5 separate regions of the Homo sapiens genome follow, and all the other regions are linked to region 4. The links come from fine-mapping of genetic effects on gene expression. A gene starts in region 4. Each other region holds a variant in brackets. All regions are shown on one strand. Distances are from middle to middle. Region 1 holds the start of LOC105377085 (a long non-coding RNA gene). Region 2 overlaps HEMK1 (HemK methyltransferase 1, mitochondrial release factors N(5)-glutamine). Region 3 overlaps DOCK3 (dedicator of cytokinesis 3). Region 4 holds the start of HEMK1 (HemK methyltransferase 1, mitochondrial release factors N(5)-glutamine). Region 5 has its middle 10 kb from the start of CACNA2D2.

Region 1 (5,101 bases), 940 kb after region 4:
ACTTTACAGAGAAAGAAACAAATTCCACAAAGTCAACAACTTAAGTGCCCACATCGATCAGTGGGCACAGATAAAGAGGAGATAAAAAAGCAAGCATACCTAGCCTCTTTTGCCTCAGGTTCCTGGGGTTGGAAATCCTTCCAGGAGGAAGAGTGGAGTCAACATTGGGGAGAGAGTCTGTATTGGCCTTGGCTCCAAGCTCTCAGAAGCCCCTGAACATTTTTTTTTTTTTTTTTTTGAGATGGAGTCTGGCTCTGTCGCCCAGGCTGGAGTGCAGTGGCACAATCTCAGCTCACCGCAAGCTCCGCCTCCTGGTTCAGGCCATTCTCCTTCCTCAGCATCCTGAGTAGCTGGGACTACAGGCGCCCGCCACCACGCCTGGCTAATTTTTTATATTTTTAGTAAAGACGGGGTTTCACTGTGTTAACCAGGATGGTCTCGATCTCCTGACCCCGTGATCCGCCCGCCTCTGCCTCCCAAAATGCTGGGATTACAGGCGTGAGCCACCGCGCCTGGCAACCCCTGAACTTTTATTTATTTATTTATTTTGAGATGGAGCCTCACTCTGTCCCCAGGCTGGAGTGCAGTGAAGCAATCTCGTCTCACTGCAACCTCTGCATCCTGGGTTCAAGTAATTCTCCTGCCTCAGCCTCCTGAGTAGGTGGGATTACAGGTGCCCGCCACAACACCTGGCTAATCTTTGTATTTTTAGTAGAGATGGGGTTTCACCATGTTGGCCAGGCTGGTCTCGAACTCCTGACCTCAAGTGATCCACCCACCTTGGCCTCTCAAAGTGCTGGGATGACAGGTGTGAACCACCATGCTTTGGCCACTCCTGGATTTTTAGAAAGACCATTCTACAGGATTCAGGGAATAGACCATTCTACAGGATTCAGGGATCTCTGGCCTGACCCATTTGAAGGTACTCTGGAGACTGCTGGGGCAGACCCTCATGATGACTCAGGTCAGAAAGAGTTTACCACTCTATCAGTTATTTCATTTCAAGAAGGCCTGGGCCTGGCACGGTGGCTCACACCTGTAATTCCAGCACTTAGGGAGGCTGAGGCAGGTGGATCATTGAGCCTAGGAGTTCAAGACCAACCTGGGCAACATAGTGAGACTCTATCAGTATAAAAAATAATAAAAATAAAAATAATTCTTACAGCCAGGCGTGGTAGCTCACGCCATAATCCCAGCACTTTAGGGGGGCAAGGCAGGTGGATCACCTGAGGTCGAGAGTTCGAGACCAGCCTGGCCAGCATGACAAAACCCCATCTCTACTAAAAAATTACAAAAATTAGCCAGGTGTGGTGGTGCATGCCTGTAATCCCAGCTACTCAGGAGCCTGAGGCATGAGAATTGCTTGAACCCAGGAGGCGTAGGTTGCAGTGAGCCGAGATCACACCACTGCACTCCAGCCTAGGCAACAGAGTGAGATTCTGTCTCAAAAAATAATAATAATAAAAATAAAATTAATAATAATTTTTTAAATTAAAAAAAGAGAGGGCCTACAGAAGAATGGCTTTGTTGAATGGAACAAATTCAAAGGTCAGAGACCCACCACACCAACCGAAGTAAATACTTCTACCATGGGCGTATCCCTCTTGGAGATGTTGCCAGATACAGCCTGGGGTACCCAGTTAGGCCTGGGAGCCAAAGTCATCAAGACGGGAGTTTCTAGGTGTAGAGGGTGTCATGGGCTCTTACCGTGGGGAAGTTCTTCATCCCTTAGAGGTGGCGATGTCTCTGTGTGAAAAGTCTCATGATGTTCCTGAGGGGAGCCCCCTCTGCCCTGCTCCTGCTTCAGCAGGTCCAGGCTTCTGACAAGATAGCCTTTTGTGAAGTCACAAAGCTGGTTGCCTCCCCACAGGACCAGGGACCAGGACAACCAGGGACTAGTGGGCATGACTTTAGGGGAGAAGGGACTTCACAAGCAGCCTGTAGGCTCTGGAGAGGGGTGTGGGGTCTGGAGGGGCTCACTGGACCAGTCTCAGGCTGTAGTGGGTGAGGAGGGTTATTGGAGACTCAGGATGGGATCAGTTTCTCATGTCTCAGTCATCGCCAAAAGATAAGAACAGTTGGGGCCTGAGCCTGTATTCCTTGACCATTATCCCATCCGTTGAGACCCTAGGGCCAGAGGAGCACCCTTGCCCCTTTTGAATATATATAAGGGTCCTGATCACTGATGTTCTGGGTCATCCCTGGAAAAAGGAGGTTAAGGCCCCTGAGCCAGGGACCAGATCTTCTCCTCAGTGCCATCCCTCTGTGACCATTCAGTTTCTTTTCTTTTTTCTTTTTCTTTTCTTT[C/CT]TTTTTTTTTTTTTTTTTTTTGAGATGGAGTTTCACTCTTGTCGCCCAGGCTGGAGTGCAGTGGTGTGATCTTGGCTCACTGAGACCTGCACCTCCCGGGTTCAAGCGATTTTCATGCCTCAGCCTCCTGAGTAGCTGGGATTACGGGTGTCCGCCACCACACCTGGCTAATTGTTGTATTTTTAGTAGAGACGGGGTTTCACCATGTTGGCCAGGCTGGTGTCGAACTCCTGACCTCAAACGATCCACCTGCCTTGGCCTCCCAAAGTGCTGGGATTACAGGCATAAGCCACTGCACCTGGCCTGACCATCCATTTTCTACCTGTTTCCTGGGCAAGCACATTCTGCCAAATTCTGCTACATTGAAAAGTGGCCCTGGTAGCCTTGGGGCACCCCTACCTGTTGGATTACGCAGAGGAAGAAGAGTGTCAAGAGAAGAAAGTGGAGCGCTCAGTGCCCACTCTCTCCAGAGGGTAGAGACTCCCACCTCCTGAAGAGGCAATTCAGGGGAGAAAACAGAAAACAACCCGGGGAGAAAGTGTCATTCCACAAAATGTGGAAACTCAGTTACTGCCTTGGAAGGTCACACTTCGTAAGCGGGGCATGGGGGCAGCCACTGAATGGAAACCTTGTTTTAAAAACAAGTTGCAAGGCATGGGTGGCTCACGCCTATAATCCCAGCACTTTGGGGGGCCGACGTGGGCAGATCACCTGAGGTCAGGATTTCAAGACCAGCCTGGCCAACATGGTGAAACCCCGTCTCTACTAAAAATAGAAAAAATCAGCTGGGCACTCCTGTAATCCCAGCTACTCGGGAGGCTGAGGCAGGAGAATCGCTTGAACCCCAGAGGCAGAGGTTGCAGTGAGCCAAGATCATGCCACTGCACTCCAGCCTGGGCGACAGAGAGAGACTCCCTCAAAAAAAAAAAGAAAAAAAGAAAAAAAAGAAAATCAAATGAACAAAAATGTGTCTTAAGTTAGGATTCCCGAGCCCTTGCCCTGTGCCTGGCCCTGTACCCTGTGTCTTCAGTGCTGCGGAGAATGCAGCACAGACCCTGCCCTCAAGGCTTACAGTCTAAGGCCTGAATGACTATGCCCAGCTCCCTCCCTTAAAATGAAGGCTGCTATTCCCAGAAGTCAGGGGCAGCCTGGAACCCAAGAGCCTTGTATCCCTGTCCAGGGCATTACATTTCATGAAGGCAAGAACAGACCAAATCCTGTGGACTTTTGGCAGGTAAGCTAAGACAGCATCTCACTGCCTCTCAGGGTCTGCAGGTCTGGGTCTTGGTGTCATTAATTCTGTTGAGAGTTGCTCACCACCATGTGTCTCCTCCAGACCAAGGAGACATCTTGGCTATTTTGTATTCAAGCCATGCCTCCACTGAGGGTTTCTGCTGTCTGCTCTATGGAGCCAGCAGGCATCCTGTGGGACAGGTCTGGTGTGAGGTACAAGAGACTAGAGGTGACCCTGGGCAAGTTTCCTCATACATCCCCCATAAGGAGGGCTTTACTAGATCTATGATTTTCTTTCTTTCTTTCTTTCTTTTTTTTTTTTTTTTTTTTTTGAGACAGAGTCTTGCTCTGTTGCCCAGGCTGGAGTGCAGTGGTGCGATCTTGGCTCACGGCAACCTCCACCTCCCCGGTTCAAGTGATTCTCCTGCCTCAGCCTCCCGAGTAGCTGGGCACACGCCACCATGCCCAGCTAATTTTTGTATTTTTAGTAGAGATGGGGTTTTGCCATGTTGGCCAGGCTGGTCTTTAACTCGACCTCGTGATCCACCCACCTCGGCCTCCCAAAGTGCTGGGATTACAGGCGTGAGCCACTGTGCCTGGCCTAGATCCATGATTTTCAAATTATATTAGTATTATGATTTTACCACAGAGTCTTTTTAGTCCCACTGAAATCTTGTATACCTCTTCATTAAGTAGAGAAAAGGAATGATGCAAGGGATTCTAGGTCATGATGTGGCAGAAAAACTCCTAGTGTTACAAGGAATGCAGTTTAAAAACCATGCACCAGCCGGCTGAGCACGATGGCTCATGCCTGTAATCCCAGCATTTTGGGAGTCCGAGGCGGGCAAATCACAAGGTCAGGAGTTCAAGACCAGCCTGGGCAATACGGTGAAATCTCTCTACTAAAAATACAAAAAAAATTAGCCGGGTGTGCTGGCGGGTGCCTGTAATTCCAGCTACTCCGGAGGCTGAGGCAGGATAATTGCTTGAACCTGGGAGGCGGAGGTTTCAGTGAGCAGAGGTCGAGCCACTGTACTCCAGCCTGGGCGACAGTGTGAGACTCCGTCTCAAAAAAAAAAAACCATGTACCACATGGCTTCCAGACCCTTTCAGGTGCTGTGAATCTGTGACTGCAAAGTCCAGATTATGAAAGATGGGAACAGGACAAAGAATGCCACATGTAGTGGCCACCTCAAGAGTTCTGCTCTGAATATTTCCGCTGCAACTACTCATTCCTGGTTCCAGTTCAGCTTATTTCCAGCCACCAGCGTGTCCCCAGCCCACCTCTCACCTGGCCCTCTGCTCCTACCTTTGTTCCTCTCTTGCAGGCTCTGAAATCAGCATCTAGGCCTTAGGGGCTCAAAGCCCACATGGGTTCTAAGTCAGGAGTACAACAGTCACCTCTCTGTACCTGAATCCAATAGGCAGGAGACAGGAGGCTTTCTCCAGGTAACATTCATCTTTGCCTAACTCTCTTCCGAGATCCCTGTAGTCTCTGGAATTGTCCTGGTCCTTTTTTGGATGCAGGGCATATTTGATTTCATGGGGCTGCCAACCTCAC
Region 2 (5,101 bases), 21 kb after region 4:
CTGAGCTCTGAATGCATTTCTGGGGACCAGGGGCCTAAAGAGCTTTTTGAGCTGAGTTACAGGGTTAGAGAAGCATTGAGGCTGCTCTTTCTGGCTGCCAGGAAAAAGGGGCTGGGGCAGGAGGCTGCAACTTGTCCAGGGTCTGGAGGTGGCTGGGGTCTGTAGCAGTGGCATCAGATATTCTGGAACAGAACTGACTCACAACCATTGCTGAGGGTTTGGATGTGAGATGGCCAGGACCACAGTGGGCCCAGGGATCTGATTGGGACCTGGGGGAAATGGGGCCACCCTGAGTTGGAGACTGGGGTGCTGGGGGGAACAGTCGGGGAGCTTGACAGTGTAGGATGCCTTCAGAATATCCGAGAAGCAGCATTGGGGCGTCTGGAGATGCAAATGTGACCATGTGGGGACACAGTCCAAAGGCAACCCTTGAGGTAGAGTTGTGAAGACCACTCTCCTAGACCTGAGTGCTGGCGACAACAGTACCGGGCATCTGCAGTGTGTAAACTAGTGCCAGGTGCTGCACACACGTGGTCATAAATCCATCTGTTGGCACATCAGGGATCCCTTCCTTGGCCCACTGTATGGATGAAGGGACTGAGGCTTAACATGCCCAAGGTCACACAGCCAGCAGCTGGCCATGCTGGAGTTTGAACCTAGTCCTCTGACATCCCAGTCAGGAGAGGCGTGAGCAGGCTGCCGAGGCCAAATGCAGCCCAGGGCCTCAACCCCCCAGAGGGGCCTCAGGAGCCAGTTAGGTGCCCCACAGCCAACGTGGGCTCCAGGGTGAAGGGGAAAGTGATGAATCAAACAGAAAGCAGCAGACGCAGACTGAGCTCTCTCCCTGTCGGCCCGGGTGCCAGATTTTCACGCCCACAGCAAAGGGGCCAGGCAGAGCGCTAGGTGTGGGGCAGGAGAGGGCAGCGAAAGTGGCTGCCACTGAACCCAGACTCTGATGTACTCCGGATATGGGTGGCGTGGACTGACAGACACCCAGCCCAGTTCCAGACTGAAAGTTGAGTCTGTCTCAGCATGTGAGGATATGAAGTTTGCCTTGTCATGGGGAGCATTTCAGGTCCCTAGGCCTGTGAGGTTCTGGGATGAGGCACCAGATGGATGTGTCTAAAAACCCTTGTTGAAGGCACTCCACAGCTCAATAACTGACCATTGCTCACTACTCTCTTGGCCCGCACTGAAAGCCACTGTTTCTTCATCATTTCACTCAGCCCGCCTGTCTCAGCCCCCCAGAACTTTGGAGCTCATTCTTTCAAAGTACATTTCATGTGCAACTGAAATACATATTTTTAAAAAGATAAAATGAGCATCTAGTTAGCAAAAATGTATTTTGCAAGTGCAAATTCTTTCTTAGCATACAGTCCATCAGGGCGAAGAGCAATGAACACAAATGTTTGAACTGGGGGCTGGGATGGTAGTTGTAGTCTTATGTTGGTCTCAATGTCCATTTTCTTTCAGTGTTTGATTTTGGTAGCACAGGACAAAGTGACCGCTGATTCTCACAGATAATTGTTTACAAATGCTAGCACTGTGTCTGAAGCCCACCTTGCAGTCTCTTTGATTGACAGGGACAGCAAGAGAAGCCTTATCTCAAGCTCAGCACAAACCCTGTTCTCTGAGCACATAGGAAGGATTCTAATGTGTCATAATTTGGTGCTGTGCCCATTTGAGTCTGTGTGTGGTTTTTAAAATTGGGTTTTTTTTTTTTCAATAATTAAAAATATGAGCTGGGCATGGTGGCACATGCCTGTGGTCCCACCTACTCGGGAGGCTGAGGCAGGAGGATTACTTGAGCACAAGAGTTTAAGACAGCAGTGAGCTATAATAGCGCCACTGCACTCCAGCCTGGACATCAGAGTCAGACCCTGTCTCTAAAAAAATAATTTTAGGCCGGGCGCGGTGGCTCACGCCTGTAATCCCAGCACTCTGGGAGGCTGAGGCAGGCAGATCACCTGAGGTCAGGAGTTCGAGGCCAGCTTGGCCAACATGGTGAAAATCCGTCTGTACTAAAAATACAAAAATTAGCCGGGTGTGGTGGCTCACGCCTGTAATCCCAGCTACTTGAGAGGCTGAGGCAGGAGAATCGCTTGAAACCGAGAGGCAGATGTTGCAGTGAGCCAAGATCACGCCATTGTACTCCCACCCAGGCAACAAGAGCAAAACTCTGTCTCAAAAATAATAATAATAGGCCAGGCGCAGTAGCTCACGTTTGTAATCCCAGCACTTTGGGAGGCCAAGGATCACAAGGTTAGGAGTTCAAGACCAGCCTGGCCAACACAGTGAAACCCCGTCTACTAAAAATACAAAAATTAGCTGGGTGTGGTGGTGGACACCTGTAATCCCAGCTACTCGGGAGGCTGAAGCAGGAGAATTGCTTGAACCCGGGAGGCAGAGATTGCAGTGAGCCAAGATCATGCCACTGCACTCCAGCCTGGGCGACAGAGCTAGACTCCATCT[CA/C]AAAAAAAAAATTTAAAAATAATAATTTTAAAAAAATGTTTTAAAAATGAAAGAAAAGGAAGAAGGGAGGAGGAAGCCAGAAAGAAAGGGGCCGTGCAGGGTGGCTCACACTTGTAATCCCAGCACTTTGGGAGGCTGAAGCAGGCAGATCACCCGAGCTCAGGAGTTCAAGACCAGCCTGGCCAACATGGTGAAACCCTGTCTCTACTAAAAATACAAAAATTAGCTGGGCATGGTGGCTCATGCCTGTAATTCCAGCTACTCGGGAGGCTGAGGCAGGAGAATCGCTTGAACCCGGAAGGCGGAGGTTGCAGTGAGCTGAGATCACCTCACTACCCTCTAGCGTGGGCGACAGCAAGACTGTTTCAAAAAAAAAAAAGAGGAAGAGTGAAAGGATGGACGAAAGGAACTCCTGTGGGGTGGGGCATCTGGGGCACTTGATGCCCCACGTGACCATTCCCTTCCCGGAGGTCTGCCCCAACTGCTCCAGCCCCCATAGCCTGAGGCTCCCGGCACCTCCCACCCAGCATCTGTCACAGCAAATCAATCTGGGCCACATGCTCCTGAAAGGTCCTTGGGAGCCCCACCAGGCTCCAGTGTGGTTGCCCCAAGTACTCCATGAGTAGACATGGGCTAGGGACTTACCCAGGCCCTTGGTGGTGCCTCCAAGGGTGGAAAGACTGGGGGACCCTGTGCCCCTGAAAGCCCAGAGTTTCACTGTTTCTGGGTACCTTCATTTCTGGGAACTAACTGTGCTTTGGAAAGAGAGAAATGAGAAGCAAAACCCTAGGGCCCCAGTATCACCCCTCCTTTCTGTCTTCCTTCCGCTTAGTCACAGCCAAGAGCTCAGTACCTCAGCCTCCCTTAGGGCCACTAGGTGGGGCAGAATACAAGGTCAGGCGAGGACACAGCATCTGGGACGAGTCCTTTCCTGCCAACAGCCTCCGTGAGGGGTCCTAGGATTGCTGAGGGCTGAGACCACCTTCCCAAAGTTGGGGAAGGGGTAACTGAGGCTGTCATCTGGCCTGTCTCACCTGTCTTACCTGCAGGCCCATCATTCCTGCACAGTCATTTATTAGGCACCAACTGTAAGCCAGGCCCAGGAGGTTGGATGGTTCAGGTGGGGCCCTGGCCTTGCAGAACTCATGGACTTGCACATAGACTCCTCCTGACAGGCCCCTCATGAGTAGCTGGGTCCTTACGATTTTTCTGGTCAGCAGTGGGGAGCCGTGGGAGGCATTAGGCTCTGGGGAAGCCAAGCAACATCACATGTACACAGCATAGAGACTCACACACCCTTGCACAGGCACCCACACGTACGTGTATGTTCATGGGCGTGGGCCTTGAGCACCGGGTCCCGTGAGCCACTGCACCTGGCCAACTGGGTCCATGTCCATAATCATAGGTGTCCACGCAGGGCCTCCCTTGGATGGGGGAGCTCCAGGCTCTGGAAACCAAGCCAGGGTTGCATGCATGCACGTGTGTGTGTGTGTGTGTGTGTGTGTGTGTGTGTTTGTGTGTGTGTGGTGTTACTCTGCCTCAGAGGCCCAACCACTGCCTCCAAGTCATGGGAGCGCAGAGCCCATGTAAGCTCAAACACTGCCCCATGTCATAGAAAAGAGGGCCAAAGATGGGGCTGGGCGTGGTGGCTCACTCCTGTAATCCTAGCACTTTGGGAGGCTGAGTCGGGTGGATCACGAGGTCAGGAGATCGAGACCATCCTGACTAACACGGTGAAACCCTGTCTCTACTAAAAATACAAAAAAATTAGCTGGGCGTAGTGGCGGGTGCCTATAATCCCAGCTACTCAGGAGGCTGAGGCAGGAGAATGGCCTGAACCCGGGAGGCGGAGCTTGCCGTGAGCGGAGATTGCACCACTGCACTCCAGCCTGGACGACAGAGTGAGACTCCGCATCAGAAAAAAAAAAAAAAGAAAGAAAAGAGAGCCAAAGCTCAGAGAGGGCCCATGACTTGCCCAGTGTCACACAGCAAGGTGAGGCAGGTCTGGGAGGGAAATGAACCAGACCTTATCCACATCCCTGACCTTTTTGGCTTCATGCTTGGAGCTTGGCACCCCCTGAGAACCACACTCCGTTGACCTCTGGGAAATGGAGGCTGGTGATTCTCCCAGCAAACCCGCCTGGGAACTAACCACAGGCTCCTCCCAGCTTTCACTAACCAACCCCAGGATTTCCAATACCGGTGCTTTGCTTAGCTGTACTGGGCACCTGGAACTCATTCTCCCTGCCACCCTCCCTCCCTGATTCCTTGAATAAAATTCAGCCTTCCAAATTTTACTCAAATGCTTCTACTTTCTCTGACCCTCTGGAACTTTCCCCTGTTGCCAGCCTCCCTCCAGCATCTGTCCCCTCATTCCCACCTCCTGTTTACTTCCCTACAAAAGCCAAAAATTGACCCCTAGAGCCTGAGACTCTGGATGGAGGATCTTCGTAGCTGGGGCCACACCCAGGCCAGCCCAGCCCTTCAGACTCTGCCAGTCACAGTGGGGTGGGCCCTGGAGCTGGAAGAGGAAACAGAGCCTCTGCCAGAGTCACCACCTGCCCCCAACCCTACTTCTCCTCCGAAGGCCCAACAAGGTCCTGTGCGCCCTCCAAGGGCAGAGGAGGC
Region 3 (5,101 bases), 570 kb after region 4:
GACCAACCAGCTTCATTATGTTCCTGTAGAGAAAGAGCTGGAATTGTGGAAAAACAGACACAAGTTCTTATCATGCAAGTGGCTGTTCCGCAATGAAATATGCATGCACAGCCTTGCCAGGTGTCTACTGTTAAAGTGAGGGCATTTATTGGAAAATAATGAGACCCTGCAACTTGGAATAGGGACATGGGGGAGGACCCTGATGAAGCTGGGGACACTGAGTTTGTGAACTCTGATGAACCTCTTTTGCCAGAAAGAACACCGTCCCCATCCCCAGTCATGTCAGCATCCCCTCCCCGACCCAAGCTGCCATCAGCCTTTCCACCTTTGTCTGAGGAGATACATGCTGTGCTGCCTGAGACAACACTGATGGCCTCCCCTGAGGCAGTTGCCAGGCAGGATAATGTTGATTTTCCTCAGGACCCACCCCCAACACCCTTGTTTACTTATAGAGCTGTAACTAGACTAAGGTCCTGGCAGGTCCCTAGAGGTGAGGCTGAGAGTGTGACCCATGAGAAGGTGCACTACACTCGAAAAGAACTGCTTGAGTTTTCTTTATTATTATTATACTTTAAGTTCTAGGGTACATGTGCACAACGTGCAGGTTTGTTACATATGTTACATGTGCCATGTTGGTGTGCTGCACCCATCAGCTCATCATTTACATTAGGTATTCCTCCTAATGCTATCCCTCCCCCCTCCCCCCACCCCATGACAGGCCCCATTGTGTGATGTTCCCCACCCTGTGTCCAAGTGTTTTCATTGCTCAATTCCCACCTATGAGCGAGAACATGCAGTGTTTGGTTTTCTTTCCTTGCGATAGTTTGCTCAGAATGATCGTTTCCAGCTTCATCCACGTCCCTACAAAGGACATGAACTCATCCTTTTTTATGGCTGCATAGTGTTCCATGGTGTATATGTGCCACATTTTCTTAATCCAGTCTATCATTGATGGACATTTGGGTTGGTTCCAAGTCTTTGCTATTGTGAATAGTGCCACAATAAACATACATGTGCATGTGTCTTTATAGTAGCATGATTTATAATCCTTTGGGTATATACCCAGTAATGGGATTGCTGTGTCTAATTTATACAAACAGAAATCTAGAGAACAGGCATGGGAATGGATATTAAGGGTGTGGGATAATGGTGGAAGGAACATAGAGTTGGGTCAGGCTGAATTTATTGATTTGGGCCCACTAAGAGGGAAGGGTGCAGGATTGAGAAGGAACTTCAGAGATGATAGAATGTTCTTTCATCACCCAGGTACTAAGCCTAGTACCTAATAGTTATTTTTTCTACTCATCTCCCTCCTCCCACCCTCACCCTCAGTGGGCCCCAGTGTCTGTTGTTCTCCTCTTTGTGTTCAGGTGTTCTCATCATTTAGTTCCCACTTACAAGTGAGAACATGTAGTGTTTGGTTTTCTGTTTCTGCGTTAGTTTGCTAAGAATGATGGCTTCCAGCTCCATCCATGTTCCTGCAAAGGACAGGATCTTGTTCTTTTTTATGGCTGCATAGTAGTCCATGGTGTGTATATACCACATTTTCTTTATCCAGTCTACCATTGATGGGCATTTAGGTTGATTCCCTGTCTTTGCTATTGTGAATAGTGCTGCAATGAACATATGCCTGCATGTGTCTTTATGGTAGAATGATTTATATTCCTTTGGGTATACACCCAGCAATGGATTGCTGGGTGAAATGGTAGTTCTGTTTTCTGAAGACCTGATAGGGGCTGTATAATTACAAAAATGTTTTTATAATTACTTGAGAATATGTAACAGCAGATTTACTCATGTGTCTGTTTTATCTTAGACAAAATGGAAAAAGCCAATTTTCTGGGATTATTTGCCATTCAAGTTTCTGCTTGTTCTTAATCAAGCAAATCATTACCTATGTCTCTTTGGTGGGAATGTCATGAACCTCAAACAAACTGTGTGCCTCCAGAAGAGCTGGAATGGGTACATGGCATAGACTTTCTAGTTGGAAGAGTCAGAGTACATGTAGGTAATAGGAATCCTGGAGATAGATTTCTTTCATGCAGCACCTCTAGGAGCCTATGCCACACAGACACTCTTCATCTCTGAAGCAAGATGTGGCTTGCAGCATTTCCCAGGTATATTTTCCCATGGAACCGAATTTTCCACACCCCAAAACTTTTTTTCAGTACTTATTTCATGAGAGGAAATAACAGATAAAGCATGGGCTTTGAGTTCAAACCTTTCCAGATTTGAATTTCAACTTTACTACTCTCTACTTTTTCATCTCAAGCCAGGAACTTTGCCTCTCCAACTCTCAGTTTCTTCAGAGGTAAAATACCTGTTGTAAAGATCAAGAGCAATTAGGCAAGAAAAGAAATACTTAAAACAATGCCTGGTGCGCAAAAAAACACTCACTCAGTGGCTGCTGTTGCAGCTACTACAGCAAAATAATCAATACCAGAGCTGTATCTCCCTCTCACATATTTTCTCTGA[C/G]TTTCAGACATGGGTTTTTAGCTGCCTGTTTTCTGTTCACGTATGTGTTCCACAGAGACCTCGAATTCAGTATGTATACCCAAAATTTATATAATCTTCTTTTATATCTTCTCTGGTTGATATAACCACATCCAGTCAACTGCTAAATCTGGTCAGCTGTGTCTCCTAAATATATCTCACATCCATTCACCTCTCCTCAGTTTTAAGACTGTGTCATAGTTTGCCTGGGCTGCTACTGTTGTCTCTCTGGAGTTCTTTCTATGTTACCAACCTGGCTTCTGCATTGCAGCCCAGATGCTCAGTCTAAACACTTAGGGGATCATGCTGCTTCTCAAGTTTGAACTTTCAGAGCCTCTCTAAGGCCCACAATAGGGTTTTTCAAACTTGCTAGCCCTAATACCAGTTGAAGTCCTTAAAATTATAGATTCCTGGACTGTCTCCGGGAATCCTTTCCTCTAGAGATTCTGATCCAGATGATCTTGGGTTTGGCCCAGGATATTTCCATTTTAAGTAAGCTGCCAGGTACTACTAATGGTAGTCAAATTTGGAAATTCTTCACACGTAAATAATCCACACTGTGTTGCATGGCACCTCTGGCCAGCTATCCAGTACTCTTTTTTTTATTTTATTTTTATTTTTATTTTTTTGGAGACAGGGTCTCACTCTGTTGCCTAGGCTGGGAGTGCAAGGCTGCATGCAGCCTTGACGTCAGCAGGCTCAAAACAATCATCCCACTTCAGCCTCCTGAGTCGCCAGGGCTGTAAATGTATACCATCATGTCCAGCTAATATTTAAGTTTTTGTAGAGACAGGATCTCGCCATATTTCCAAAGCTGTTCTTGAACTCCTGGGCTCAAGTGATCCTCCTGCCTTGGTCTCCCAAAGTGCTAGGATTACAGGTGGAGCCATTGCATGCAGCCTCTAGTACCCTCTTAACTCATGCTCTGAGCTTCCCCATACAATAAGCTACATCATCCTTTAGAAAGTCTGCACTTTGCACTCTCTCCTCCTGGAATACCTTTTTCTTCATCTCTAATTACCCCTTACCAAGTGGCAAAAGCCTTGCAGTCTTTCAAGAACCTGTTCCAGTACCTCCTTCAGGCAGCCTACCCTCAATCCAGTAGTTTGTCGGTGCCCCCCGCCACCTTTTTTTTTTTTTAGATGGAGTCTCGCTCGTCACCCAGGCTGGAGTGCAGTGGCACGATCTCGGCTCACTGCAGGCTCTGCCTCCCAGGTCACGCCATTCTCCTGCCTCAGCCTCCTGAGTAGTTGGGACTATAGGCACCCACCACCACACCCGGCTAATTTTTTTTTGTATTTTTTGTATTTTTAGTAGAGACGGGGTTTCACCTTGTTAGCTAGTATGGTCTTGATCTCCTGACCTTGTGATCCACCCGTCTCGGCCTCCCAAAGTGCTGGAATTACAGGCATGAGCCACCGTGCCTGGCCTTGTCAGCCCCTTTCTATGCAATTATAGCATTTTCACATCGTGGTGCAATTTGTGGTTTATGTGTGTCTCTGTTCCACCAGACTTGAGGACAGGAATTATTTCATTTCTATAGCCTCAGCATTTAGCTCGGTTTCTGCAAAATGATAGAAGTTAGTGAATGTTTGTTGAAAAAATAAAAGGGAAAGAGGAAGGCTAGAAAGAACCCTTGCATTATACCAGTAGTTACAAAAATGTTACTTGGAGTCCTGAAGTGTCTCAAGGAGAACTGGTGGTCAGAGTGGAGGCCTAACTATGGAGGATTCCTGCATTATCCCCCTCTCCTGAAACCCTCACCTCTGATTCAACCCAAGAAAATCTGCTTCTTAATTTTTTATATGTTGGTGAACAGAGTAAGGTTCTGTTGAAAAGAAGAGAAAAGCTGACACTATGTATACATATGTAACTAACCTGCACATTGTGCACATGTACCCTAAAACTTAAAGTATAATAATAATAAATTAATTAAAAAAAAAACAGCTTAAAAAAATAAATTTGGAAACCATAGCCCTGGACCATCGTTTGCCTTTATAAAACCCCTTTTTTGTGTGTATTTCTGCTTTCTGTGCTTTAAAATAAAGTGGGAAAACTTAAAGAATTTGAGAAATAAAGCCAAGTGATCTAAATTGGAAAATGAATCTATGAGGGGATATTAGATATTTCCTACTCTGTTGGGTCATACAGTGTAGTATAACCTTGGGGCTACTTGCTTATTTTCAAGCACCTGGCAGGTTATCATGAGAGAGATGCTAAGCAGTTGGCATCCATATTCATGGAGGACCGAATGAGGAACATAAAGATTAAATTGAAAAAGTTGGGAGAATTCCTCTAAATTTATTTGAGAAAACTGCTTCCGTTTCCAAAACAGAGTCTTTAGGATGTACCCTCGTTGAGGATAAGAAACTCGTCTCTGCCTTAGTGCCGGGCATGGGCTGATACCTCATTGGCAGTCACCAAACATTTGTTGAAGGGATGCATGAATTGCCATCAGTGAAGGCATGTACAAAACGCAGTGCCATCCAAGAATTACAAATCTCAAAAAAGGTAGTTATCTTAAAATTAAGACACCATTAGACTTGTCACAGATTGAAATTATGGGATTCATTTGTAAGAACTTGATCAATAATATGAAATTAATGTA
Region 4 (5,101 bases):
CCACCAACAATAGAGGGGCTGCTAGGGTCAAGGAGAAAGGCGAGGCAGGAATGGAGCTCCCAGTGTGGGTGCCTTCTCTTCCTTTACCCTCCTCCCCTGGAAGCAGAGGGTGAGAGATTTGCCCAGTGCAGAGGGCCCTGGTTAAGGTGGGGTGGGAAGAGGTGCCAGCCAAGCTGCAGATGGGACGGCCTAGGGAGAGGAGGGATACCTAGCTCGTGGGTGCATACATCCCCCTGTGCTGGTTCATGGGCATTAGTGGGGTTGCCTCCCTGTGCAGATGCATGGGCGTGTGTGAGATGTGTAAACACCTCTGATGGTCCCTGAGGAAGGGGCAAGGCTGGCAGAGGGTTATGGGGTAGAAAGGCTCATCCCTCTTTGCCTTCTCCCTCCAGCTAGGCTGGGCACATCTGGGCACATAGGAAGTCCCGGGTTCTTTTCTTGGCTTTGCAACTGATCCCGGGCGTGACCTTGGGCCAAACCCTTAACTCGTGCCCTGGGGCTCTGTTAACATCGCCTCCCAAAGGAGAGAAGAGGCCCTACTGACCACTTTCCAGGCCTGCCTCAGGGTCCAAAGGGGAAGGGAAGGAAACCGGGGTAAAAGGGGTCGGCACCGCGACCTTCGAGAACCCGCATGCTGTTCTCCACCAGGTCTCTCAGTCCTCCCTGCCCCAATCCCCATGCCCGCCTCCGCGACCCTGTGATGCCTCCCTTCTTGCACAGGAGCAGTGACCTCAGCACTTACTTAATCCTCTCCCGGCGCCGAGCTCAGTTGGAGAGGCTAGGGGTGGTAGTGACTGGCAGGAGGCCGGGGCGGGGGGAACCCCCAAGCCCGGCGTCTGGGGCTGCGGGTCCGACCCGAGATCCGCCCTCCCTGCAAGCCCCGAGCCGCTGGCCAGGCCCGCTACTGCGCACCAGCCGCATCCGCGAGCGCTGGCTCTGCCGGCCTGAGCTAGGGTGGGTAGGGCCGGGACCCACGGCGGAGGTGGGGCCGGGCCGAGCAGCCTCGGGGGATCCCCGAAGCTACAGCGCCTTGCCTCCCTGCACGCTCCGCGCCCCCGGCCTCCGATTGGCTGTCGGGCCTAGAGCCCGCCCAGAATTGGACCGTTCGCTTGTCGCTCGGGTCTGGCTCCACCCCCAGAGGGAGCCTAGAACCTGGTCGCAGTTTTTAGAGACTACCCTCACCCCGTGGCCTGCGCCGAAGTTGGGCGGAGGACAGTGGGTGGCCAGGCCCTTCCGGGCCAGAACTCGGGACCCCTGCCAGCTACCCGTGCCAGGACAGACTCAAGCCCCCAAAACGCGGATGGATGTACAGAGGAGACTTGGGGAGAGCACTGGACTGGGAGTCCTTGGGCCTGCACTGAACTCTGGCTGACTTTGTGACCTTGAAGAAACTGCTTTTCCCTTCCTGAACCTTGGCTTTCTACTCAGACGGGTCCTCTGGTGTGAGGGTTCTAGACGAAGATGGGGAATCTTCGTCTACAGAAGTTGAGAGTGGGGTGGATTTATTATTGGGCACCCCGACCCAGGCAAGTCTACATATACCCTCACAATAGCTTCCATCCACGGCATGATCAGCTCAGGGAAGGAGCCCTCAGATACTCCTGATCCGCCGGTTTTCAAAGTAGTTTATGGGAGTCACCGGGTAGCCTGGTACAAATGCAAACGCCCCTGTGTCTCCCGGTCTGGGAAGGAGGCAGGGAAACAGCATGTTTAATAGCAGTTTAAGGCCGGGCGTGGTGGCTCACTCCTGTAATCCCAGCACTTTGAGAGGCCGAGGCGATGGATCACCTGAAGTCAGGAGTTCGAGACCAGCCTGACCAACATGGTGAAACCCTGTCTCTATTAAAAATACAGAATTAGCCGGTCGTGTTGGCTCACGCCTGTAATCCCAGCTACTTGGGAGGCTGAGGCAGGAGAATGGCTTGAACCCGGAGGCCGAGGTTGCAGTGAGCAGAGATCGCGCCATTGTACTTCAGCCTGCGCAACAAGAGCAAAACTCCGTCTCAAAAAAAAAAAAAAAAAAAAAGAAAAAAAGAAAAAAAAAGTAGTTAACAGTGTTCTAGTTAACAGTACTTTCTGGTGGGGAGATGTTGACAAGACACACTTTGCGAGACGCTGCCGAGTATTTTATAGAAGGCGCAACTGAGGTCCAGAGGTCCCAACACCTGGAGGAGTTGCCAATAGAGTCAAGATTCGAATCGGTAAAAGAGCGGCCCCTGGGGTCTGGCCGCCAGTCGGCCGACCCCCTGGTGGGCTCGGGCCACTGACCTCGGTAGGGTCACGACACTGGGACTGGACCCCAAAGTTGGACCAGCCTTCAACACTGGAACCCGCCCATGCACAGCTCCACCCGGCCCCCAGGCTAAGATAGACCACGCCCCCGGACATCTGGTCCCCGCCGGAACACCCGGGCCCTCTGGTGACACGCCCCCTTTCCGGCAGGCTACTGGGCTCCGCCCACACACCTCCCGGCCTGGTTCCTAAACGCCAGCTCGGAGCAATCCCCTTGGGCTGGAGCCAAATCCCTGCTGTGATTTTAAGGAAGACCGGCAGGTCCGGGCCCCCAAGGGTCAACCCCACACACATCCCCGCACTTTCCTGTATGCAGGCCTGCGAGCGTAGAGGGAGTGGAATTCACAGCCTCCCCACCCATCCGCAGGGGTCTCCTGGGAGGAACCCACCAGCGATAGGAACACTGAAGCTGGGCTACGGCGTCCGCCCGAGCCTTTTCTTAAAGGCGCCGACCCCGGAAGCGGGGCGTCCGAGGGAGCGCGCGACGGGCCACGCACGTCCGGGCGTCCAGTTCGGGGCAGCTTCTCCGGCTGGTGGGTGGGTGGGGCAGCCTTTCAGGCAGGTATGCATGGGAGGTGGGGATCGGAACGGGGTGTTTCGACTGCAACCGCCTGGAGACCTGGCCGGTACCATTCTCCATAGTGCAGATGGGGAAACAGGGTTGGAGAGAGGGGGCCTCATCTGGGTCGTTAACAATGCGGTGCGTAGCTGTGAGGGAGTTTACACTTCTGACTTCGGGCCTTGGCTCCTGGGACGGCGCACTGGTGCAAGAGCCGCTTCTGGAGTCTGGTGGACTCGGGTTCGTGTCTTGCCTGGGACAGTCTTTTTTTTCTTTTTTTTGAGACGGAGTCTCTCTCTGGCACCCAGGCTGGAGTGCAGTGGCATGACCGCGGCTCGCTGCAACTTCCGCCTGCTTGAACTGGGTTCAAGCAGTTCTCCTGCCTCAGCCTCCCAAGTAGCTGGGACTACAGGTGCGCGTCAGTATGCCCGGCCAATTTTTTGTATTTTTAGTAGAGACAGGGTTTCACCATGCTGGCCAGGCTGGTCTCGAACTCCTGACCTCGTGATCCGCCCACCTCGGCCTCCCAGAGTGCTGGGATTACAGGCGTGAGCCACCGTGCCCAGCTTGCCTGGGACAGTTTCTACCTGAGTGACGCTGGGCAAGTCGCTTCCCTTCTCTGACCCTACTTGTATCTGAAGATGTGGCACTTAGCAGGTGCTTAATAAACGCTAGTTTGGACTTTTATCTGGAAGCAAAGGGGACCGCTGATTTTAAACCTTCAGTTAAACTTGCTTGTGACCTCTTTAAATATACAATTGTAAATTTTTTAGTTGGTGGTTTACGCTGATGTCCCGGATTATAGGTTAAATTAGGAGGAAATTTTCAGCATGTACATCCATGACAGTACACACACAATGTCAGATTCAAAGCTCCCAATTAAAGGCAATCATCTGCCTCTTGTAACATCAGTTAAGATCATGTAACATCTGGTCCCTGCTGTGTGTTGAGCTGCCTCCCAGGCCTTGGATATTCATAGACTAATGCATTGCTTGCCATGGGTTTGGTGTGATTTTCCCCCATCTTATGGATTAAGAAAGTGAAAATCAGAAATAATGACTTGCTCAAGATCACACACGCTAGGTTAGACACAGATCTGTCCTGTCCCCACATATGTGCCCTAACCTACCACCAACCCGTTTATTAGCAGAGACTGAGCTATGGGCTCAGCCCACTCCAGCTAAAAATGTGAAGAAAACGTAAGTGGCCAAGACAAGAATGATCAAATAGGTGGGTAAGGCTCTAAATGGAGTCAAGGGGGTGTCAGAGCAAGAGCACAACTATTCTCAGGCAATGTATTGGTAGAAGGGGGGGTGTCATACAAGGCTCACCTGCTTTCCTGGTTCCTCTCACTCCCAGGGTGGCAACCAACTATATCTGAGGACCAGAGCCATTTTGGGGCACCAGAGCTTGTGACCTCTCCATCTCCACCCAGCTGGGTCCAGGGGCCACTCTCAGCACTCACCTCAGCAGCTGACATCATAAAGCAGACTTGGGAACCTGGAAGCACTCTGGAGAACCTTTCCCTGAGACATGGAGCTTTGGGGCCGAATGCTGTGGGCCCTCCTGTCTGGCCCAGGGAGGAGGGGAAGTACCCGGGGCTGGGCCTTCAGCTCATGGCAACCCCAACCACCTCTGGCTGGGTTATCCAGTGCCATAGAACTGGTCAGCCACTGGACTGGGGTCTTTGAGAAGAGGGGTATCCCTGAGGCCCGGGAATCCAGTGAGTACATCGTGGCTCATGTCCTTGGAGCCAAAACAGTTAAGTTTAGTGTTGTCAAGAGGACAGGAAGAGGGAGGAGGGAGGACTTGGGGAAGGGATATCCAGGTTTTCTGTTCACTAAGAGTGCTTAGCTGAGACTGATGGGATTTTTCTGAAGGAACGTCTTAGCGCCTGGCACACACTGTAACAGTTTGTTGGATGAATGAATATATCTCTGCCTAAGTGTTCTGGGATAGACACCTGGAAGCCTGGTGTTAGCTGTGTAACCTTAGGCAGGATGCTGCCCCCTCTGGGCCCAGATGATGAGAGGGTTGGGCCTCCAGACCAGTGCTGGGCAGGCATTATCCACATAAGACACCTGGGTTGGGGGCCTTGGGCCCAGTGAGCCAGCCACTTATATTCTCTGTGGGGACAGTTTCAGAGCCTGAGGCCGGCACTTTGGACCCAGCCCTTGACCTCTCAGCAACTACAGTGTATCCGGGAGCTGAGTAGCCGTCGATTGCAGAGGTGAGCACCCATGGATCAGA
Region 5 (5,101 bases), 55 kb before region 4:
TGGGAGTTGCGGGGGATAGACAGGACAGGGGCTGGCCTGGGACCATTGCCCCCAGGTGGGCTAGCTGAGGGAGGGGCATCATTGCCCCCAAAGGTGTGGGGTGGGGAAAGGGAGGCTATCCAGGGTACAAGTCCAGAAATGACTATGGCTTGTCGGGATTCTGGGTCCCGTTCCACCTGGGCCCTGAGTATGGGCAGATAGGAAACATCCTGGCCACTCTGGAGATGACTGAGCCACAGAATCCCTTTCAAAGGAAAGCAGGATCTCTGTGGACCCCTTACTGCATTCCATAGTTGGGCAAACTGAGCCTCAGAGGTTTGGGGTAGGCCCAAAGTTACCCAGTAAGCAGTAGAGACCAGGTCCCAGGTCCCCCTGGGTCCTTGCTTGGGGCCATCCATGGCCTTGTCTGATGGTTAGAGCTGGCCCATGTTCCCATCTTGGGTGTCTGTTTTCCACTTGCTGATAAGGAGCTTATACTGAGGTCGGCAGAGCAAGGCAGGTGCCAGGACAAATGCAGAGAGCAGAGGGCTCCTCGGTGGCCTAGACAGACCCTAGAGATCTGGGAGCCCCCAAGGCAGAACTAAACCCTCTCTCCTCCCAGAGAGTTTTGCTGGGCTCCAGGCCCCAGAAGGGGTGCTTGGGAGGCTGTACCTGCACAGGCTAGTGAGAGTCCAGAAGAGAGTGAGGAGGCTCCTACCTACTTATGTTCCCACCAGCTGGAAGCCCCTCCCCTCCCCCTGCCATGGCCTTGCTGAGCCCTGCTTGGCAGCTCCAAAGCACCATCTTGCTGAGGTCTTAATTTCCAAATGAGTGAGGAGGAGCTTCAGGGAGGCAGAGGCGGGGGGAAGGCTCACTGAGAGAGACCTCAGGGAGGATCGCCATGTGGACTCAGCAGTTTGCAACAAGCCACCAAGGTCTTACCTGAAAATCTAAGCTGGCTGCTGTGGGGTGGCTGGGAGCAGGCCATGGACAGGAAAGACTGGCAGTGAGTCAGGCGTGGGGCAAGAGTGGAAGGTAGAACCCAAACACCAGGGCAACGGGTATGCCAGGCATGCTCACCCCTCAGAGTGTAGGGCATTATCAAGTGTTGATGAATGAATAAATGACTATGTAATCATATGTCACCTCCATCACGCTGAGGCCTGGGGTCAGGCCTGGCATGTGTGACCCCTGCCAGTCCTGCAGGTCAGATCCCTGGGAATAAGATGAACGCTGGCTGGGCACAGTGGCTCACACCTATAATCCCAGCACTTTGGGAGGCTGAGGCGGGCGGATCACCTGAGGTCGGGAGTTTGAGACCAGCCTGACCAACACAGAGAAACCCCGTCTCTACTAAAAATACAAAATTAGCCGGGCTTGGTAGTGCATGTCTGTAATCCCAGCTACTCAAGAGGCTGAGGCAGGAGAATCGCTTGAACCCGGGAGGCAGAGGTTGTGGTGAGCCGAGATTGCGCCATTGCACTCCAGCCTGGGCAACAAGAGTGAAACTCTGTCTCAAACAAACAAACAAAAAAAAGTTGAACCCTGCCTTCAGAACTCCATGTAACCTCCTCCCAGGCTGCCCTGCTGTTCCCTGCCAGCCACATCTCTCTGATTAGATTCAGAGCTCCCTGTAAGCCCCAGGCACTCAGTGGTCCCCTCTCCCAACAAACGCACACGCACTACTGCTGTTCTCCTGGACGTGCCAGGGTAGCTGCTGCCCATTCAGGCTGGTCTGGCTGTCGCATAGAAAGCTGGACAGCTCTAGGGTCTTCTTACCCCAGGCTCTGCTCACCCCTCAAGCCCCTAAGCCTGTTCTTGGCACAGGCTTGGGACCACAGGGACCACACTGTGACCTCACTGAGTCTTGCTGCGGTACCCATAAGTAGGCCCCGAGGGGCTAGACCCCAGGCTGGAGTGCCCCTGTTCCTAACCTCCCCTGGGGACTATATGTTCACTGTACAGATGAAAAGGGCTTGCCCCAGGTCACTGGGGCTTGTGATTTTCAAGTAAGAATTCCTGATGTTTCCTCCAGAATAATAACCCCCATCACCACTGCCTCCTCTTCAACCCCTTCATCCCCACTTCCTACCAGGCACTGGGCCAGAAGGATGTCTAATTCTCAAAACAGCTTTCCAGGTAGGTAGCATTAGCCCCATTGCCCCATTGGGCAGATGAAGAAACTGATGCTCCAGTAGTTCTGAGTGGCTTGCTTAAGGCTGGCTGGGAAGCAGCAAAGATGGGCTCCAACTCCCGATCCAGCTCCTCCTGGGTTGATTCATGAGGAGCATATTGTAATCTTTTTTTTAAGTAAGCCCATTTTATCTCAATATGCAAAACTATGCACATGGAATGCAAATTATTAGAAAAGCTCCCAGGGTGACAGTGCAGCCTTTGGGTTTCACCAATGATCCAACAATTCGGCGGCCTCTCTCTCACTTTAGCTGAGCCTCTCTACTCTGCCTCCCCACCAAGGTATCTCTGGGGAGGGCTTTGCAGGAGAGAGTTGAAGATTTGTTGACACACGGCCAGTGAGGTGAGCAGCCTCAGACCCCATGAATGAGGCAAGGGTCCTATGCCCAGCCCCCTTCCTGCCTCCCCTGCCCCTTATTGGACTCCTTGAGGCTTAGAGTTGAACATCTGCACTTTGGTGTGCATGAGGACAGGGGCTGCTTTCTGCTGCCAGAATATGGGAAGGCTTTCTGGAGGTGGAGTAGAGAAGGACATTCCAGATGAAGGGAACATTGGAGAACTAGTAAAAGGTGTTGAGGTAGGATCTGCTCCAGGGAAAGCCAGTGAAGCATTGAAGGTCTGCTCTGTTTCGAGGAATGAGGCTTCTCCATGATGAAAGAGCCCTTTCCATCAGAGCAGGCAGGACAGGAGGCTGGGAGGCGGGTGACCAGGCTAGATCCAAGCTGCGGCCACAAATCATGGGAGAAATGTCCCATGAGCACAGGGTGGAAAGGACAGTCATCCAGCACCTTGGCCTGATTCACGGCTAGAGAGGCAGCAGACATCCACCGGGCCCAGGTAACCTTGAGCTTGTTAGCTAACGTCACTGCATCTCAGTCTTCTTGAAGGTAAAATGGG[T/A]TCAGTAAACTCCACTCCTCATCTTCCTCTCAGAGCTGCTGGGAGGCCACTGGGGGCTTCACCCATTGCTGAATCATAAAGCATTTATGGAAAGGCTGTACTCGTGGTGTCCTCCAGACCTGCAGAGGGAGGCAGGGCAGGAATGCCACCACCACCCCTACACACACACACTCCCCGGTGTCTGGCACATGCCAAACACCCCCACTCAGCCAGCTAGGAACAGAGCCCCAAGCCAAGGTTAGGGCCAGGCTCAGGGTCCATTTCAGTGATAGGTCAGCAAGGAGGGCAGCACGTGGAGGCCTCCCTGCCTGTTTCTGAGGTGCACAGGGAAAGTGGCGTGGCCTGCGGTGAGCAATGGTGGAAGCAGAGTCTCAGAGAGAGAGACTCCAAGACAGACAAACAGAAAGGGCCCAGAGGTGGGTGGCTGAGCTCAGTATGGAATCTTACCTTCTGTTAGAAAGGCCCCGAGAGGGTCTGGTAAATTGATCAGACAGGGGCAGCTTCCAGGCAGGGAGGGGATCCATGGAAGCTGGGTCTACCCATTCCAGGACACTGCATTTCAAACTGATTTTAAAGCAACAAGGAATTATTTTTAAACTAAATTGGATGCAGATCCCTAATATATGCCAGATTGAAGTAGAGTTGTTGTGATGGAGGGTGGTCAGGGGGTTGAGAGGCTCCCAGGACAGAATCAGGGTGCATGCCCTGCACTGGAGGTGGTACAGGTGCTGGGCAGAGGCTTCTGCCCCTGACACGGTCTGGACTGTGGTTTCCACTCTCCTAGGATCACCTTGTGAAAAGCCTTTTACAGCCGTGGGCTTCATGTTCTCATCTGCAGAACGGGAGCTCTTGGTACCCCGGCCCAGCTTGCCCCTCAGTTGCCAGAACAACTGTGGGGGCAGAGAGCCCTCTCTCTCAGGCTGCCCCACTTCATGGAGAGGGGGGCAGGTATTTATTCATCCTCCCTAAGAACTGAGGTCTTGGCGAACTCATCTGCCTCCCAGCTCAGCTAATTGGAATCAGTTCCCCATTTCTCCTCTGCCTCTCAGTAAATTATGCGAATTCCCCCAGTCAGAGGCCTGGGTGATGGACAGCCCTGTCACAGCAGCCTAAGTGTTTAGAGAGCAATTGTTCTGGGGAAGGCTGCCATTCCTCAAGCGTGTGCTGTGCGGGGGGCCACGAGGAGAGCCAGCCCGGCCCTGCTGCTGCCCCTGTCCCTGCCCCTGTCCTTGCTCCTCTGCCCGCCCCTTTCCCCACCGCTGCCCCTGCCCAGCCACCAGAGCCTGCTCCGCCCAGCCAGCCAAGCATGGGCTTCCGGTACGTTATCCTTGTCATAACAATCAGAGCAGCCGAGAGGTATTGCTCTTAAACCCTCAACACACATTTTTATAACCTTTCTGTTTAATAAGAAAGAGACAGCTCCAATTAGCTGGGAATATTCTGCCGAAATGGGATTATTTTAAAAGCTCTGGCAATATTACAAAATAGCTTCAGTAAGTGAACAGCTGTTGCCGGGCCCCGCCTGCCCTGCGCACTGCGCCTCCCGCACCCTCCCATCAGGGCCGGGCCCCTTGCCCCTCCCCAGGGGCTTCAGAGTCCCTGAGAACTGTGCTCTGGCCAGCAGCCAGGGGCCCCTCTTCAGGCAGCAGGATGTAAGTTGTGGGTGTGGAGCACAGAGTCTCCATGGCCCGGACTGGAGGGGAGGGACAGTTCACACCGTGCCCTGAGGCTGGACTATGGCCTTGCTGGGGTCCTGCTTGTCCCAGAAAAAGTCATGTGGGGACCCCAGCGTCATCTCTAAAGGGCCTGCAGCCTGCTCTGCTGCCCCTGTAGCCTGGACATGTTCCCTACTTTTAGCAGGACTCCCGTCTGCTGCCCAGGCCTTCGCAGGCTCTCTGGCTCTCCAGTCAGGGGGGCAGGGCAGGGCTGCTTGTGAATCCATTTCTCCAGATTGTGAGTTCTGAGTCCACTCCCCAGGCCCACCCCTGGGCCAGGTAAGGATGCTACCTAAGGGGTCCCTCCCTCTCCTTCT

What was found.
Region 1: its variant is fine-mapped to the expression of HEMK1 in prefrontal cortex (BrainSeq, PIP 0.95).
Region 2: its variant is fine-mapped to the expression of HEMK1 in blood mononuclear cells (TOPMed, PIP above 0.99).
Region 3: its variant is fine-mapped to the expression of HEMK1 in monocytes (TOPMed, PIP 0.94).
Region 5: its variant is fine-mapped to the expression of HEMK1 in whole blood (TOPMed, PIP above 0.99).

The regions. Positions count from the first base shown.
Region 1 is chr3:51,503,818-51,508,918 of GRCh38, forward strand. It overlaps LOC105377085 (a long non-coding RNA gene), which reads left to right and starts at 3,253. Exons shown (of 3, transcript XR_940835.3): 1 at 3,253-3,541. It also overlaps a transcript of DCAF1 not described here. The variant C/CT (reference allele first, on the strand shown) is at 2,308.
Region 2 is chr3:50,587,712-50,592,812 of GRCh38, forward strand. HEMK1 (HemK methyltransferase 1, mitochondrial release factors N(5)-glutamine) reads left to right here. Exons shown (of 11, transcript NM_016173.5): 11 at 1-5,101. Among named protein-coding and RNA genes, the nearest start is that of HEMK1, 21 kb to the left of the region's middle. RefSeq lists enhancers at 2,747-2,866, 2,877-2,936, 3,007-3,096, 3,117-3,226. The variant CA/C (reference allele first, on the strand shown) is at 2,473.
Region 3 is chr3:51,132,615-51,137,715 of GRCh38, forward strand. The region is part of intron 9 of DOCK3 (dedicator of cytokinesis 3); the gene reads left to right. Among named protein-coding and RNA genes, the nearest start is that of MANF, 250 kb to the right of the region's middle. The variant C/G (reference allele first, on the strand shown) is at 2,476.
Region 4 is chr3:50,566,721-50,571,821 of GRCh38, forward strand. It overlaps HEMK1 (HemK methyltransferase 1, mitochondrial release factors N(5)-glutamine), which reads left to right and starts at 2,802. Exons shown (of 11, transcript NM_016173.5): 1 at 2,802-2,854; 2 at 4,211-4,612; 3 at 4,990-5,081. The coding sequence starts at 4,385. It overlaps C3orf18 (chromosome 3 open reading frame 18), which reads right to left and starts at 1,027. Exons shown (of 6, transcript NM_016210.5): 1 at 743-1,027. RefSeq lists a silencer at 659-1,168 and an enhancer at 2,607-2,726.
Region 5 is chr3:50,511,529-50,516,629 of GRCh38, forward strand. No RefSeq gene overlaps it. Among named protein-coding and RNA genes, the nearest start is that of CACNA2D2, 10 kb to the left of the region's middle. RefSeq lists enhancers at 302-1,247, 4,092-4,730. The variant T/A (reference allele first, on the strand shown) is at 3,070.